2 linked regions of the Homo sapiens genome follow. The protein of the gene in region 2 interacts with the protein of the main gene of each other region in a pairwise test. Each region holds a gene or a part of one and is shown on either strand. Other genes may lie near its edges. The genes, in order: KCNH2 and FRMD8.

Region 1 (8,254 bases), on a different chromosome or scaffold from region 2:
TCTCAGGGTGCCCTGCTGCAGCCCAGCTTTGCACGTAGGATTGCCTAGGGCTGCAACCTGAGGGCTATGCTTGCTGGGGAGGGGAGGGGAAGGGAGGGGGAGAATTCCAACTGCTACTGAAAGCCCCAGCATTACAGGCCAAAGTGGCCGGAAACTTCTGTTTATAAAAAGCTCTTATCCCAGGAGCATCTTGCCTGGCACAAGTGAGGCTGCTGCCTGCCTGCTGCTCACTCGCCAGCCTGGCTCTCCGGGCAGGCCTGGAGTCAGGGAGCCAAGTCTGGCAGAAATGGAACCATGGGGGTGCTCATCCAGGATGAGGCCAAACTGAGGAAGGCCTCACATCCCTGGGCAGGTCCCCTTTCTTGGGTCTGTTTTCCTACAAGTGGGGCCAAAGTCTCAGGCCCCGCCCAGGCTCCAGGTGTGTCCAGGGTTTGGAGCTGCAGGTCCCTCTCTTTGCTTCCTATGACCTTGGGCTTCTGCCTGTGACCCTCAGCTTATTCTTCTGCCTCTGCCAGACCAAGGTTCAAAAGCTGGCTCTATCATTTACAAGCTGCAAGACTTGGGCATGGTGCCGAACTTCTCTGGAGCCTTGGTTTCTTCATCTATAAAAGGAGGATAATAACACCTACCTTATGGGGTTGTCAGAGGACCTAATGAGATGCAGCGTCCTTAGGTGTTCAACGTGTAACTTCCCTCATCCTCTCTGGCACACCCACCCCTCAGCTCCTGACTGCCCTTGGGGCGGGGGTGGTGTGCAGAAGTTCTAGGGGGTACTGACCTGGTAGGATCCTCAGATAATCGGGGAGTGATTTCCTAGGGAGCCTCAGGATAAGGAGTGGCTCAGGGAGCGCCCCCCAGTCTGGAGAGCAGGGAAATTAAAAGCAGAATCCAGAGAGCCGATGCAAAGGGAATCCTGGCCGCCATCTCTGGCCTTTCCCAGGCTCCCTTTCTAGGCCCAGTGTTTATCCCTCCGCCGCGGCTGCTGACACGCGTTGCTGACACCCGCCAGGCTGGCCTCAGCCTCGGGCATGGAGGAGGCGGCGGGCTGCTGGCGGCCTGCCCGGGGGAAGCCACGCAGCCCGCCCGCGGGCCAGGCGGAGGAGGGGGCGCGCCGCGCGGCCCGGCCGGCCAGGCACCTGTATCGGGGCACACGCACAGCTGCGTTCGCCCCCTGCTGGGACCCCAGTCCCAGCCATGCTTCCTGTGGCGGGGAGTCCCCGGGCGGCTGTGTGAGTGGAGAATGTGGGGAAGGGCTGGGAGTCCCGGAGGCTGGGGTCCCCGCTCACGCGCACTCTCCTCCCCGCCCCCCTAGGCCGTAAGTTCATCATCGCCAACGCTCGGGTGGAGAACTGCGCCGTCATCTACTGCAACGACGGCTTCTGCGAGCTGTGCGGCTACTCGCGGGCCGAGGTGATGCAGCGACCCTGCACCTGCGACTTCCTGCACGGGCCGCGCACGCAGCGCCGCGCTGCCGCGCAGATCGCGCAGGCACTGCTGGGCGCCGAGGAGCGCAAAGTGGAAATCGCCTTCTACCGGAAAGATGGTAGGAGCGGGCCGGGGCGGGGCCACGACCAGGGGCGGGGTCAAGAGGGGCGGGACCACGGCGAGGGGCAGGGTGCGTGGGGGTGTGGGGGTGTGGGGGCGGCTGGAGAACGCCCCGAGCCCGGGCAGGGTTCTGTGGGGGTGTGACGCGGGCGGGGGCCCTGCGGTGTGCCTGTGGGAGGCGCGGTTCCGGGGCCTGCGCCTCACTCTGCTGAGATGGTTTTCAGGAGGGCAAAGGAGTTGCTAGGCTGTGGGTCTGGCTCCTCTGGTCCTTTTTTTCCCTGGGCAGGTGTGGGCACGTAGAGCAAGTTGGACTAGAGTTAGACCGAGCTGGGATGGCAGGTACGTGCGTGGATGGAGGTTAAAGGTCAGATTGGCAGTTGTGCGCTGACATCCGGGCACAGGCCCCTATCTACCTTAGGGCAGTTGCTGCCAGGTGACAGGTCTGGGAGATGTCATGGAGGGACAGGAGGGCTGCAGGACTCTGGCTGTCTCTGCTGCCCCCCTCCTGCCCTGCGCTTCAGCAGCACCTGGGGGAGGTGCGTGCCTCTCCCCGCAACCTCAGTTCCCTTTGTCTCAGCTGTCGAGCGCCCCGCCCTGCCACCCTCTCCTGCGCCAGGTGTCTTTACTCAGCCACCGCCTCCCAGCACAGCTGCTCTGGGCTTCCGGAGAGCGGATAAACAGAGCCCGGGGTGGGGCTGCTCCCACACCGTGAATGCCCTGTTGGGGTGGGCTCTGGTCAGGGCGGGCAGAGCAGGAGGACTGGGGTCCTGTGGGCAGAATCCGGCTGCAGAGGCGGCTCTGGAACGCGTGCAAACCTTGCTGCTTCCTAGCGTGTGTCCCATAAGCATTGACTCAACCCTTGTGAGCCTGGCAGGCACTAGGCTCTTGGAGATGGGCAGGACAGATGAGGCTCCTGCCCTCAGGGAGCTTGTCTGCTGTAGACAGTGAGCACGCTCTGCTTTCTGTTTGGGACCAGGCCAGCCAGCCCCATGTGCCAGCCCTGTGTGCTCAGGGTTGGCTGGGGTGGCCCTGCAAAGCTTTGCATCCTCCAGGCTGTGCTTTTGCAGGCGTGCACAGTCTGTGGCATCACTGGACGGCACTAGAGGGGGCATGGTCCCTGCACCCTGTGGAAGAAGGTTCGCTCACAGCAAATCAGGGTTCTAACTGGCAGGAGGCAGGGGCTGTGAGACTAGACTCAAACCCTGAAGGCAGTGGATGGTTTCTAGGGGCTAGACACTGGGCCAAATGCTTTACTTCTCTTATCTCAGGCACTCTTCACAACCCAGGGAGGTAGACACTACTGTTGTCTTCATTTTGGGGGATGAAGAAACTGAAGTTCACACAGTCACACAGCTAGAAAATAGCAGTTGGGAACGGAGCCCACATCTGTCTGACCGGAGCCCTGTGCGCTCTGTTCTGTCTGTCATATATTGAAAATGACACCAGGTAGTTGCAGGTCTATCTGTATGCTGTACATTATCTCATGTGAAATTTTATTGTAAAAGTTTGCCAACCACAGGTGTACTGAAAAGAATATGAACCCATAAGTCCTGGGTTTGTGTCTAAGACAATGCTGGAAATTATACACTACTGGACAAGTTGGTTGACTTCCCTGGGCCTGTTTCTACTTCTGGGATAACGTGCCTTGCTTTGGACCTTCACAAGGGTGCTGAGCTTTCATAGAGAGTGCCTGCAACGGGCCGTGCTCTGTAAACACGGTGCCAGTCCCACTACGATGTAGCTGTGCTGGGGATTTGGCCTCTTGGCAGCAGCGGCTGAGGGCTCTTTCCTTTGGCTGTGGTATGTGTGGAGTGCTCTTAGGTGGAGCTGGCCCTCCCTCCCAGTCTAGGCTGGCCCCTTCTGGAGAGGATGGCTATGGGCCCCCTTCTGCAGAGGAGTTATTGTGGGATCACCTAATCCAACCCATTCGACTTGCAGGTGGAAGGACGGAGAAGCAGAGGTCTGATGACCAGTGAATCAGTGGAAGGAGTGGGATTAGAACCCAGATCCCCAGCCCAAGTTCAAACTTGTCCCCTCTCCAGGTTACAACTCCAAAAAATGGGGCTGTGACCCAGAAAACTCTGTGCCAGCAATCTCTGTCTGTCCCCTTCTTCACTCTCACCTAGTTTCCACGGGGCTCAGGTGTCTCCTGTTGGCCAACAGGCTGGCCTGGCACTCAGCCACCTAGGACCCCATGTATCCTGGCATTCTAGGCCTGGGGTGATGCAGACAGATTTCCTCAGCCTCCGCTTCTTCTGCCTTGAAACACTCAGTCCCTCCTGTGATCCCCGGGACCTGGCTTGGGCTGCGTGTGTGCGTGCCTGTGTGTGTACTCACACATGGGCCTGGTAGGGAGGCGGAGGTGAGGAATGCCTGCGCCACCCCTTGTTTCTGTCCAGGCCTTTCTCAGGGTCTCTGCCTGGGCCAGCCTCGGGTAGGGGGAGCTGGGCAGGAGGTGGAGCCTTCTGCTGGCAGGCGCCGCCGTGGACAGCTGTGCTGTGTTGGTGCCTCTAGCCTTGCTCTGCGCAGTGTCAGGGCCTGGAGCCAGACAGCCCCATTATTTAGTTGCTGGGACTGCTGGGAGGTGGGGAGGCTAGACTGGGGGAGTGTGGGCTGAAGGGAGAGACATGAGGTGCCTGGGGCTCACTGGCCCTGTGCCCCTTGAAGTCAGGCCCGGGATTCAGGTGGAATTGGGGGCAGAGTCCAGTGGTGTGAGGCTGGCTGGCGGTAACATCCCCGCAAGGCCCTGGGGAGGCACCCCGGGCAGCAGGTGCTGGCTGGGTCCACACCTGTGCTCCCACATCGCCATGGGGGCTGTGGCTCCTCCTCTGCCAGTCCTCACAGAGTCCCTTCTCTCTGTCCCCCTGCATCCTCTCTGCTCTTTGTTCCTGCCTCTGCTCCCTGCTTCCCTGCCACCGTGCTCAGCCAGCCTGACTGTGCCCACCTTCTCGGCTCCTCTCTCACTCCCCACATCTCCTTGCCTTTGTCTTCTGCCTGCCTGGCTTACTCTCTGTCCCTTGGTCTTTATCTCCTCTCTGGTGCCTCCTCCTGTCTTCTTCCCTCGCCTCAGCACCCCGGAACCTTGCTCCTTGCCTCTCTCCCTCTCTCCCATTGTCCCCCACCCCTCGGAGCCTCTATCTGGAAGGCTCTGTCTGGCTGCTCATACCTCTGACTGGCCTGGCCTGGCTCCATGTCCCTGTGTCCCCGGGAGCTTGTGCGTGGGTGGGGACGGTGGTGTCTCTGGAGAGGAGTCTATTAGCTTCTCCACTCCAGCTGCAGGCCAGTTGCCATGGTAACAGGGTCAGAGGGCCCCCCACTGCAACAGCTGATGCTGCGGCTGTTGGGAGGGGGTGGGGACCTGCTGTCCAGGCCTGCTCCCCAGTGCACTGTGCCCAGGGCCTCAGAGGTGGCCCCACGCCCAGTGGGCTTCGGTCTGTCCCCGGCCTTGGAACCCAGCCTCCCCAGTGCTCCTGCAGGCCTCAGACCTCAGACTGCCTTGAAATCCTTAGTACCTCCTGTGATCAGCCCCACTCCTCTGGGCCTCCTGCCCTTCTCCGTCCCCCAAGGCCGTCTGTCCTGTCTTCTTCCTTGCCTTCTTCATTTCTTCCTGTGCCCATTCCTTTAAATCAGACGCCCTGCTCTTGTCACCACCACGCCTCACCTTCTCCCTCATGGCTGACCCCTCCCCAGCTCAGACACCCACTTTCTGCTTCTTTTCAGCCCCCTGGGTCTGAGCTGAGGATGAAAGAAGCTTTTCCTTGAAGGGGAGCCTTGAGGCTGGGAAGGCAGGTGGGACAGGGATTGGTGTATAAGTGGGTTTTCTTGTCTTGAGATAGGAGGCAGACCAGAGCGATCCCAGAGGATGGGGCTTAGACACAGGAGAACTTTTCCTGTGGCACTGAAGCTATCAGGGGAGCGCCCTTCATCATGGGGACAGCGGTGTTCCTATCCTTCTGGTCAAGGCCTGGTGCAGCCTGGAGACAGGGCTGAGTGGGAGAATCTGCAGGGCTGCCAGGTGCGGGCGGGGGTCCATGGGGGCCCTGCTTCCGAGCCAGTTGCCTCTTGCCCTGCAGCACCTTCCCTCCACCTTTCCCTTCTCTAGCTGGATCAGAGGCCTGTTGGAGGGGCTCCACGGGGGTCATTCCTGAGCTGCGGCTGTCTGTCCTGGTCTGCCGGGGCTGCAGTCTTCCTATCCCAGTCCTGCTCCAGGGGTGAGGCAGGCATGACGCAACTGAAGGGTGCTATCTACTCCTTGACCCACCCTGGGGTCTGGAGAGCGTCGGGAGAGCGGCTTCTCCGTGTTGCGTCTTCTGCAGCCCCCGGAGAGGAGCTATGTAAATATTTGCGAAGAGCTGTCTGAGATGGGAGCAGAGTTTGATGGTGGCCTTGGGCTCTGGGGAGGGGGGCCATGGGGCAGCAGAAGGGCCAGCTTGGGGGTGTGTGAGGGGGGAGACTGGGCCTCTTTTCTCCCCAGAGGTGGCTTCCTGGGTGGGGTGATTTTGGAGGTTCCAAGAAAGCCCTTCACATGTTGGTATTTCCCTGAAGCGTTCCTGAAACTCCTCCCTTAGAGAACTTCTGCGTTTAGAGTGCTCCTTTTTCCTTAAAAACACGTTCTCTCTCATTGCCCCCTCCCAGTATAGAGACAGAAAGTATTTAGCCCTTTAGTGTGAGGGAGTTTAACAGAACTTCCCTCCCGACGTGGGCAGGAGGGCCATGGGAGTCAGGGTCAGTAGAAGAGGGAGGGGTGCTGGGACAGGTGATGAATGTGGGGTGCTCCCCTAAAGTCCCCTCCATGTCCTTAGTCTTGCCCATAAAGATCTCTATGCTGTGGCCTGTGGTTGGCCTCAGATAAACCCCTCTCCTTTTTGGGTGCTTATCCAGGATGAGAAACACCTTGGGAGCCAGGCAGCCTTGGTCCTCCGCCTCCTGCAGTACTGGAGGAGGTTCCCTGTCCCTCTCCCCGCCACCAGGCCTTGAGCTCCAGGTGGGTGGAGAGCAGCCCATCTGCTTTGTTCTCTGTTGTATCTGCGTGCTCAGTGCACAGCGAGAGCTCGGCACTGTTTGCTGAATGAATGAATGAATGGGGTGGGCAGTGTGCTGCGTTGCAGGAGCCTTCCCTGGGAGTCAGGTGACTTGGCAGGAGTTTCCAGCTTGGTTACAGACTTGCTGTGTCTGGGAGTCCTCTAGCCTTGCTTTGCGTGGACATTGTGGGGCACAGGAGCATCTGGGGGCTCCCAGCTTCACCCTCAGAGGTGGACCGAGGAGGATGGGGTGGGGGGACAGAGTCTTAGAGCTGCCACAGAGAGCACAGCTGAGGTGGGGGTGATGCCACCTGACCAGCAGCACAAGGCACTTCTATTGTTGTGACTGCACTTTGTAGTTTGCAAACTGGGGAACCATGCTTTACCGCAGGTGGTCCTCATGGCCCTGTGAAAGGCAGGATTCCTCTCCGTCACTTTATGGGAGGGAAGCTCTTGCTTAGAAAGGCTGAGGCACTTGCCCAAGTTTACCCAGCTGGCGGGTGGCCTGAGTGGGAACCCGAGCCTAGCTGTCCCCTCCCTGCCCAGCGTGGAATGCCACTGCACCAGCTCTCTTGCCCCCAGAGAGCCCTTCTGGGGCATGATGGGCTCAGGGCCTCAGGAAACTTGGATTTTAGCTGGGGTCTGCAAACCTCCATTCCTCGTTTGCTAAGTGGGATCATAGCGCCTGTCCCTGATGCACTTTGGGGTGTGAGGGTGTTCCTGGAATGAGATGACAGACACCCACAAAGCAGCGTGCGGTGCCAGAGCTCATTCTCCTCGCCATGAAGCAGGGCGTCACCTAAGTGGCTGCAGCTCCTAGCCCGTGCTGTTGCAATCGTGGGAAATGAGCCTGATCCGGGGCCTCAGCACCCCTGCTCCTATGGTGCACCCCGCCCCATCCTGCATGCTGCCTGCCTCTCCCCTTCCCTCCCTGCAGGCTGCTGCTGGCCCCGGGTCCTGCCTCTCCCCCAAATAATTGAAACCACAGCATTTGTGTTATTGCTTTTTCCTTTCTCTTTCATTTTTTTCCTTTTCCCTTTTATCTCACTCTCCAGTCTCATTACCCTCCCCATAGGCAACCGTTCAAATGTACTTACTGTGAATGTGTTGCTTGCATATGTTCTTGCAAATGTGTATTTTGTCTGGATATATGCATATAGATTTAATTTATGTAAATGATATTGTGCTATATGTTGTATTTTGGTGTTCGCTTTTCTTACTTGGGAATGTGCTTTAAGTCCAGCTGGGTTGCTGTTCGACATCTAGTCTGTAGGTGCGTATTCAGTGGCATGCGGCCGCCACGCTTCACCCACCCACTCTCCCGGGGAGGGACCCCACAATGTCTCCAACTCCCAGCCACTGTAAATGAGGCTGTAGTGAATATCCTTGGACATGGTCCCTTCTGGACTTGGGTGAGGATGTCTGTGGGATACACGCCCGGGAGTGGAATTGCTGGATCGCGGGACATGTGGACACTTAACTAAGTACTGCCATGCCTGTCATCACCCTCCTTCTCAGAGCTCGAGATTCCCATACCCGCATATCTTGGCCACTCTCGACATTATCTACCTTTCTAAATTTTGCCAATCTAATAGGTGACAGTGATTTCTTGTTGCTTTAATTTGCATTCCTTTGATTTCTGTTGAGTCTGAGCATCTCTTAGGCCTGGTAGCCTCTTGGGCTTACTT
Region 2 (9,138 bases):
TTTTTTTTGACACAGGGTCTTGCTGGTGTTGTCCAGGCTGGAGTGCAGTGGCATGATCATGGCTCATTGCAGCTTCAACCTCCTGAGCTTAAGGGCTCCTTCCACCTCAGCCTCTGGAGTAGTTGGGACCACAGGCGTGCGCCACCGCGCCTGGCTAATTTTTGTATTTTTAGTAGAGACGGGGTTTCACCATGTTGGCCAGCCTGGTCTCGAAATCTTGACCTCATGATCCACCTACCTCAGCCTCCCAAAGTGCTGGGCTTACAGGCATGAGCCACCGCGCCCAGCCTCTCATTTCTTATAAAGACAGGGTCTTCCTATGTTGCCCAGGCTGGTCTCAAACTCCTGGCCCCAAGTGATCCTCCTACCTCAGCCTCGCAAAGTGCTGGGATTACAGGTGTGAGCCACCATGCCCTGATTCTTTTTTTTTTTTTTTTTTTTTTTTTGTGGCAGGGTCTCATTCTGTCACCCAGGCTGGAGTGCAGTGGTGCAGTCATAGCTCACTGCAGCCTTGAACTCCTGAGCTCAAGCAATCCTCCTAAGTAGCTGGGACTACAGGTGTGAGCCACCATGCCCAGCTAATTATTTTGATTTTTTTGTAGAGACAGGGGCCTCCCTATGTTGCCCAGACTGGTCTCAAACTCCTGGGCTCAAGTGATCCTCCCGCCAGGCCGGAACTCAGACTTTGGTCTCTGCTCCTCCCATGTCACCCATCTTCCCGAGGAAGTGACCTACCATTGGGTGTGATGTGACAGAAGGAAGAAAAATGTCTCACCAGAGATCCAGCCAGCCACAAATTCCTCCACCGGCATTGTCTGGGCTTGCGGGAACTGGTGGCTCCAGCAGAGGAGACAGAGTTGAATTCCCCCCTCTCCCTCCCCTGGCCCACGCTGATAACCTCCCACTAATGTTTAACCCTGGCGGGAAGGTGAGAATTGGCCTGGTGCCCAGACCTCCGGCAACTGGCAGAGGAGAGCGAGCCAGTTCCGGTGACCCTGGCCACCTGGAGGAGTCGTGCAGAGTACAGTCTCACGGGCCAGGCGTGCCGGGACCACAGAGGCCCTGATCCCCGAGCCCGGCCAATGATCCTCGCTCTGAGGATGGCAACTGGGTTCCTGCCCCATGGTCGGGCCCCTCCAGGGCTGCCTTAGTCAGCAAGAGGCAAGCCCCTGCCTGCCCAGCCAGCCCAGCTCCACTCCCATTCATCTCCACCAAGGGGCATGGCCGCCCCCATGCCACAGAGAGAGGCCGGGTGCGGAGGTAGCGTGGCCACCAGGGGGTAGGCCCAGCCCGCATTTGCCGCTGCGTGGCAGGGTGGGGAGGAGCCACTCCCAGGAGTGACTCACCAGGCCTGGCTGTTCTCTTCAGGGTTGTTTACGACTCCCCCGACTCCCCCGTGTGAGTCAGAAACACAGCCTTCCTCGGCTTCCTCCTTCCCAGGGGAAAGATAGGGGTTTTGATTATTTAAAGTGCGTGTTGATCTGCAATGGCACCATTCTGCTCAGTCAAAACCAAAACCCTTTCAAGGATCTGTGAGCCACAGGGTGCCGCCCATTCTCCTCTGACCTCACGTCCTGCCACCCACCCCCTTGCTTTCTCTGCTGCAGCCACCCGAGCCTCCAGACTCTTCTTCAGTCAGCCTTCTGTCTCCAGGCCTGTGGACTGGCTCTTCCCTCTTCCTGGGCACTCTTGCCCTGGCACCCCTCCAGCTGGGGCTCAAATGTCACCACCTGGGTGAGGTCTGCCCCGCCTCCCCAGCCGGAGGCACTGCTGGCTCTTCCTCTCTTTCTCCATCACAGTTATCACGCCAACATACGATGGGAAGAACTTGTCTGTCTGGACAGGGATCTCTGGGTGTTCTGTGCACAGCGGGTGGCACAGGGTGGGCTCTCAATAAATCCTGAGTGACTGAATGAACGGAAATGTCAGCCAGCAGCATCAGCGGCAGCCTGGGGCTCCAGTTCCCTCTTCCCATCACCAAACGGCCCTGGGAAACATCAAGGCCCAGTGACACCTGCACCCTCCCCTCCAGATCTCCCCGCAGCTCCTAGTCTCCCATGGGGGACGCCCAAGGCCCAGTCCTTCTCTCCCTTCTCCTCTCACTGTGGCCAAGGCAGAACCCACCCACCCCTGCTGCTTTCTCCCGGGTGGACAGATTCGGGAAACAGGACCTCCTACCTCCTGCCTCTGGAGCTGCCTGGGGCTCCTTGGGCCACCCCCAAAGATCATCCTAAAAGACCATCCCCAAAGACTGGCCTCTCGTGGTGGCTTGGGCTGCAGTCCTGGTTCTGCTTCTTATTCCTGAAACTGCCTTTGCAAAAACTATAACTGATACAGGCCAGGCGCAGTGGCTCACGCCTGTAATCCCAGCACTTTGGGAGGCCGAGGCGGAAGGACCACCTGAGGTCAGGAGTTCGAGACCAGCCTGACCAACATAGTGAAACCCCATCTCTACCAAAAATACAAAAATTAGCCGGGTGTGATGACGGGCGCCTGTAGTCCCAGCTACTTGGGATGCTGAGGCAGGAGAATCGCTTGAACCCGAGAGGCAGCTGTTGCAGTGAGCCAAGATCATGCCACTATACTCCAGCCTGGGCAACAGAGCGAGACTCCGTCTCAAAAAAAAAAAACAAACAAACAAACAAAAAAAAAACCCTCCTGTCTCTCGTACAGCCAGCTCTGCATGAATTAAACTCTCCTTATTGCAATTCCCCTGTCTTGACAAATTGGCTCTGTCTAGGCAGAGGGTAAGGTGAACCCAATGGGCGGTTACATTATCTCTCTCAGTGATGTTGAGCAACCTCTTCTGTGGGCCTTGGGGTCTATTATTGTTTGCCAAAGTAGGACAGCAGTCGGGCTAATTGATGTCTAAGCCTCTCAGCTCTAAAGGCTGGAGGCCGCCTCCTCCCTCACTTCAGAATGGGTCTCATTCTCTTTTCCAATCTCACCGCCTCACCCCAGTTTGAGAAAGACCCTCATTCCCACTTCCCTACAGCCTTGCTGAAGGGAAGCCCACCTAAGCATGGCGTCATCTTGTGAATCTCTAGCTCACAACCTCCAAAATGTTCTTACTGTCTAACACGCCTGCCCCATATCTGTCATCCTGGGGTTCAAGGCCTCCCCCATGGTGCCACCCACCTGCTATGCTCTCACACAGCGGGGGTCTTTCCTGGGGTCCTAACCATGCTCGTGCAGTTCCCACTACCTGGAATGCCTTTCCTTCCCCACCATCAGCCTCCCGGACTCTCTCCCAGTGCCCCTCCTTGACTAGACCCGGGTTCTAGCCTCCCCACCACCACCGCAGACACTCCCAGGTGTCAGTCTTTGACATAAAACAGAGATGTGATACTCACCTCTTAGTGAGTTCTAAGGATTAAAGCACTTTAAAAAGTGGCTGGCACGTAAATGGCAACTGCTAATACTTATTTCCACTCTCAGGACGCATGAGAATGACACAGGAAACAGGGGAAAGGGCCTGGCCCAGTGCCCCACACACAGCAAGTGAGCAGAGACTTTTCCTGCCTGTAGCATTTCATAGTTCTTAAGGCAATGCTGTCATCTTCTGTGGTTTTATTTATTTTTTTGGAGACAGAGTCTCACTGTTGTCCAGGCTGGAATACAGTGGCAGGATGGCGCTATCAGAGCTCACTGTGAGCTCACACTCCTGGGCTCCAGCGATCCTCCCACCTCAGGCTCCTGAATGGCTAGGACCACAGATGTGTGCCACCACACCTGGCTAATTTTTGGGTTTTTTACAGATGGCGTCTCACTATGTTCCCCAGGCTGGTCTTGAACTCCTGGCCTCAGGCGATCCTCCTGCCTCGGCCTCCCAAAGTGCTGTGGTTTTAAATGTGCTGTTCTCCTGGGCTTCTTTCTCTTTCCCCTCTTCCTTAACTCACCAATTAAACCACAACAGACACTTTCTGAGGGCAGGGCCACGTCTCCCCTCAGTCTCCATCCCCTGACCTAGCACAAGCCCCGCATCCAGTAAGCATTCAAAACAACACTGAACTCTTCTGCTCCTGCTTCACTCCAGCTGGGTCAAGAGGCCATGGAGATACAGTGTGTCCTGGTCTGAGGGTCCCAGAGCTGAGAACCAGGAAGGAGATGCCTGCCCCCACTGGACACCCTTCCCTGCAGCCCACATCTGAGCTTCCTCAAGTCCTTAAGTCACATTGGCAAGGCAAATGTGATGTCATGGGCTCAGCTGTGGGGCAGTGTGGATCATAGGAGGGCAGGCAGAGCTGGTTCACATACCAAAGAAGGCTGGACTGGGTCAGGAGCTAGAGCTGCTTTCCAATCCCAGGGAACCAGGGCAAAGTGAACCCACTGCCCTCTGTTCCTGATCACCAAGCCCACTGCTGTCACTTGGGACAACTTCTGGTTCCTCTGGCCCCAGAAGGTGCCCCATGGACTTATTTTTCTCCCTGAGTTCCACATCTCAGATGCACACATGTTGCATTACCAGGACATGTCAGTGACATGGCCCTGAGGGTAGGTGGTTTCACACCTGCCTCTTTGGGGCCCCAAGTCTCCTCCCAGCCTGGGAAAACCTCAAGGTCTCCCAGGCTGTTGTGTAAGATAGTAAGGGCTCATGTCACTGCTCCCTGGAAAAACAGAGTGTCTGTCCTGGTTTTCTGATTTAGACATATATATATAAATTTTTTTTTTTTTTCAGACGGAGTCTCGCCGTCGCCCAGGCTAGAGTGCAGTGGTGTGATCTCGGCTCACTGCAGGCTCCGCCCCCTGGGGTTCACACCATTCTCCTGCCTCAGCCTTCCCGCGTAGCTGGGACTACAGGCGCCCGCCACCTCGCCCGGCTAATTTTTTGTATTTTTAGTAGAGACGGGGTTTCATCGTGTTAGCCAGGATGGTCTGGATCTCCTGACCTCGTGATCCGCCCGCCTCGGCCTCCCAAAGTGCTGGGATTACAGGCGTGAGCCACCGCGCCCGGCCGACATAGACATATATTAATAATCATTTAGAGAGTAGGGATAGTCCTTGGGGGTCATTCAGTTCAACCACCTCATTTTACAGATGAGGAAAACTGAGGCCCAGAGGAGAAGGGACTTGTCCAGGATGAGTCTGGGCCAGGACTCATTCTCCTGACCACTGCCGAGAGCGCCACGGTACAGGCCGCTGCCAGCGCCGCATGGATCCCTGGCACGTGCCAGGAAGTGTCCATTTCACAGGCAGGGAACTAGCCCGAAGACCCAGCGTGGGCAGGCCAACGCCCCTAGCCTGATTCTCGAATCTTCGCCAAACCCTCTTACAGGCCAACAGTCGGGGCCTTTGTGAAGGGAAACTCGCTCTGGGTCACTCTGGTGGTGGCGGGGCTGGTACGTGACGCGGCCACCCCACGGGCGTGATGAGACACGCGAGGCTGGCGTCCGGGCATGCGCGGGCCGCGCGGGGCGGCCCTGGGCTCCCATTGGCTCCCCCGGGTCGAAGGGGGCGGGGCCTCGGGCGCCGCGCTTCCTCCCGCCGTGGCTTCCGCGTCGCTTCCCGGTCAGCTGCGTCCTTAGCGGGAGCCCGAGTGCGGGCGGTGGCGGGCTTGGCGGCGGGGCAGGATTCCAGGCAGGAGCCTTGCCTCTCAGGTGGCGGGCTCTGCGACCCTGCGAGGTGAGAGCACAGCGACGTCTGGCCCGGGCCTCCGTCCCCGGCTGGGCGTGCGCCTTGCCCTGCCTGGGCATCCAGGTCGACCCCCGGTTCTTGACCGTAGCAACCCGCACCCCTCCCACCAGCGCCCGGTCTGCACTCTTGGCCCCTCCAGGCAGCGCCGCTCAACCTTGCGGACCCAGCCTGGGATCCCTTACCGTACTCACCGAGAGCTTGAGGAGACCTCCAGCCCCCCATCCCTGGCTCCCGGTAACTGCTGTTTCTCTTTGCCTTTGCAGATGGACGGGACAGAAGGCAGTGCCGGGCAGCCCGGCCCCGCTGAGCGATCCCACCGAAGCAGCGTGTCCTCCGTGGGAGCCCGAGGTGGGTCCCACCCGCATCTCCTCTTCCACACCCTCCTGGGACCCCAGCCCTGGAGAAGTAGCTCTGGCTTGTCTTCTTTTTCATTAAAGATAATTTATGTATCGACTAAGAAATAATAAGGTACATTCAGATGTGGAAAACTCACAGAAGTCAGAGGCTCTGTCACTAGTTTACTGGCCAGGTTGGGTCCTCGCTCTCATTTGTAAAATGAGCTTGTTTAACATAGCTGTGAAATTCAAATGAGATTATATGAATGAAAAGTGAAGGCTGATGTGGTTCATGCTTGTAATCCCAGAACTTTGGGAGGCCAAGGTGGGCAGACCACATGTGCCCAGGAGTTCGAGACCAGCCTGGGCAACATAGACAAAAAAGAAAGTGACACGTTCACTTTCTTTGTGTCATTTCTTTTTTTCTTTCTTTCCTTTCTTTCTTTCTTTGACAGAGTCTCCCTCTGTCGCCCAGGCTGGAGTGCAGTGGTGCGATCTCAGCTCACTGCAAGCCCCGCCTTCGGGGTTCACGCCATTCTCCTGCCTCAGCCTCCCGAGTAGCTAGGACTACAGGCGCCCGCCACCACGCCTGGCTAATTTTTTGCATTTTTAGTAGAGACGGGGTTTCATCGTGTTAGCCAGGATGGTCTCGATCTCCTGACCTCGTGATCTGCCTGCCTCAGCCTCTCAAAGTGCTGGGATTACAGGCGTGAGCCACCACACCCGGCTGTGTCCTTTCTTTCTCCCAAACAGCCTTTTGAAAGCAGGGATCAGGCTGGGCGTAGTAGCTCACACCTGTAATCCCAGCACTTTGGGAGGCCGAGGCGGGTGGATCACTTGAAGTTGAGAATTCCAAGAGCAGCCTGACCAACATGGAGAAACCCCTGTCTCTACTAAAAATGCAAATTAGCTGGGCGTGGTGGCACATGCCTGTAATCCCAGCTACTCAGGAGGCTGAGGCAGGAGAATGACTTGAACCTGAGAGGCGGAGGTTGCGGTGAGCTGAGCTCGCACCATTGCACTCCAGCCTGGGCAACGAGGGTGAAACTCCGTCTCAAAAAAAAAAAAAAACAGGGATCATATCATGATCTTCATTTGATAGGGAGGAAACTGGGCCCTAGGGAGGTTAAGTCCCAGGCAGGCTGTGGAAGCTCTCCAGGTGATTACATACTGCAGCTTCTGGTGCCTCAGTTCTTGCCTGAGAAGTAGATCTGAACCTGAGCCTCCTCGAAGTGATTTTGTGATCTCTGAGAGTAGCTGCTGGAGCATAACAGACTGGGGGTCCGAGGAGCACCTTCTCTTGTGTAGATGAGAAACCGTGCCCTTCCCTTCCACACACTCTTGGAGGGAGGAGTATTAGCTCTACTTTTACAGATGAGGCAACTGACAACTTAAATTGACTCCCTGAAGTTGGCCAGCGACCAGGCAAGGATGGGAACCCGAGTATGTCGGCCCCAAACTCCAGTGTTCCTTCACCATGCCTGCAGTCTCAGGGATGGGGATTTGAATCTGGTTGCTCTTCCAGGTGTCTCCATTTGGCTCTGGAACCCACAAGTTGTCACAAGGGAACTCTCAGCTATTTGGGCTGTTCTTCCCTAGCCTGCTTCGTATTGACTCCTGAGGCTTAAAGAGTCCTCAGACTTAAAGAGTCCCAAGGAAGCTGAGACCTGGAACTTGCTTTAACCTGGGTGACCTAAAGAATTATCTCTTCGCATCTTAGCCTCAGTCAGAGAGAGACTTGCCTAAGGACAGCAGCGGGTTACCAGCTCTCGCTCCTGCCAGCCAGCCAGACTAACTGCCATAGCCTCAGGATGGTTTCAGCCTCTCTATGCTGTGGTTTCAGCCTCTCTGTGCTGTAGTTTCACATCTGTGGCATGTTCTTGTTCAGGGCAGAAGAACAGTTGAATCCTTGGGGCAGCTATGGTGGTGAGGGGCAGGTTTGCAATGGCCAGGCTTAATTTGAATCTTGGGGGATTGCGGTGGGGCTGGTCTCTGGGCAGGAGTTACTGGGTTTCTGGGTGGTTTAAGGGTGTCAAGGAAGCACTAATAGATAGCATTCGTGATAGGGTCTTTTGGGGCTGCTGGGGCTCTGCCTCTGGCGAGGACTCTGTCTCAGGAGCGTAGCCCTGGTCACCCCTGAGGGGTGTAGGGTGGGGGCTCCAGCCCCAGTGGGTGGTAGAGGGTGCCTGGTTGGCCTGGCCTGGCTGTGCCAGGCAGAGGCCTCAGCTGAGCCTGCCTGGTCTCCATCACAGCGGCTGACGTGCTGGTATACCTAGCGGATGACACGGTGGTGCCCCTGGCTGTGGAGAACCTGCCCTCGCTCAGTGCCCATGAGCTGCACCGCGCTGTCCGCGAGGTCCTGCAGCTTCCAGACATCGCCCTGGATGTCTTCGCGCTCTGGCTGGTCTCCCCTCTGCTGGGTAAGGCTTGGCAGTGAGGAGCCCAGGCTGGAGGGTTGGAAGGGCACTGACCAGTACAGGAGGGAGGGGGCAGTGTTTGGAGCCGCTGGGGAGCCGCTGGCCACTGCCCATGGGGAAAGGTGGGACTTGGGTTTATCCTGAGCTGTCCACCTGTCTGAGCACCTAGAGCCCTGAGAAGGCCCCCGCTCCTGGCCCTGCTGTCTGTCTTTCTGCTGGTGGTGGAGGAGTGGACACGCCTGCCCCCCAGGTCGTGCTGGGACTGGGTGGTCCAGGAACAGTACCGCAGGAGGGAGGGAGGAAGGGGGCCTTGTCTGCCGAGCATAACCTTTGCCACAACCTGGGTGGTGTTTGGGAACCATGATTTCACCTTGTCCTCAGGCCTAGGCCAGTCTTGCAGATGGAAGTTGTAGTTAGGGTGGCGAGACCACTGTGTGGCAGGAGCAAGACAGACCCAGGCCTGAGTGGCTTCCCGGTCGGCCTCTTTGAACTGTTCCTGTTCCTTGGGGACAGGGAGGAGAAGGGACATGGCTCAGGAAGTAGGCCCCTCTGACCCTGAGGCTCTTAGTGAGGGTGGGAAGAGTAGAGACTTGACTTCTCTGGGAGGGGGGTCTTCAGCCTCCAGCCCTGCCTGGCTGGCCTCGTGACCACCCACATCCTGCCCTTTCAAGCTGAAATTGCAAGATGGAGGGACTTAAGGGCGGTGGCTCTCTAGACACTCAGCCCAGGGTCCCTCAGTGAACAGGGTCTCT

Evidence for each region.
Region 1: the proteins of FRMD8 (region 2) and KCNH2 interact in binary tests that used the Homo sapiens proteins (3 or more experiments, as listed by UniProt).

Annotation. Positions count from the first base shown.
Region 1 is NC_000007.14:150,968,000-150,976,253, reverse strand, and holds part of KCNH2 (voltage-gated inwardly rectifying potassium channel KCNH2), read left to right. Parts: intron 1-778; exon of another isoform or gene 779-936; intron 937-1,212; exon of another isoform or gene 1,213-1,229; intron 1,230-1,312; coding exon 1,313-1,543; intron 1,544-1,747; exon of another isoform or gene 1,748-1,877; coding exon of another isoform or gene 1,878-1,884; intron 1,885-8,254.
Region 2 is NC_000011.10:65,381,140-65,390,277, forward strand, and holds the start of FRMD8 (FERM domain-containing protein 8), read left to right. Parts: upstream 1-5,497; 5' UTR 5,498-5,622; intron 5,623-5,897; coding exon 5,898-5,982; intron 5,983-8,221; coding exon 8,222-8,389; intron 8,390-9,138. Other genes in the region: SLC25A45 (solute carrier family 25 member 45), read right to left, coding at 776-812. UniProt on the Homo sapiens protein: Promotes the cell surface stability of iRhom1/RHBDF1 and iRhom2/RHBDF2 and prevents their degradation via the endolysosomal pathway. By acting on iRhoms, involved in ADAM17-mediated shedding of TNF, amphiregulin/AREG, HBEGF and TGFA from the cell surface.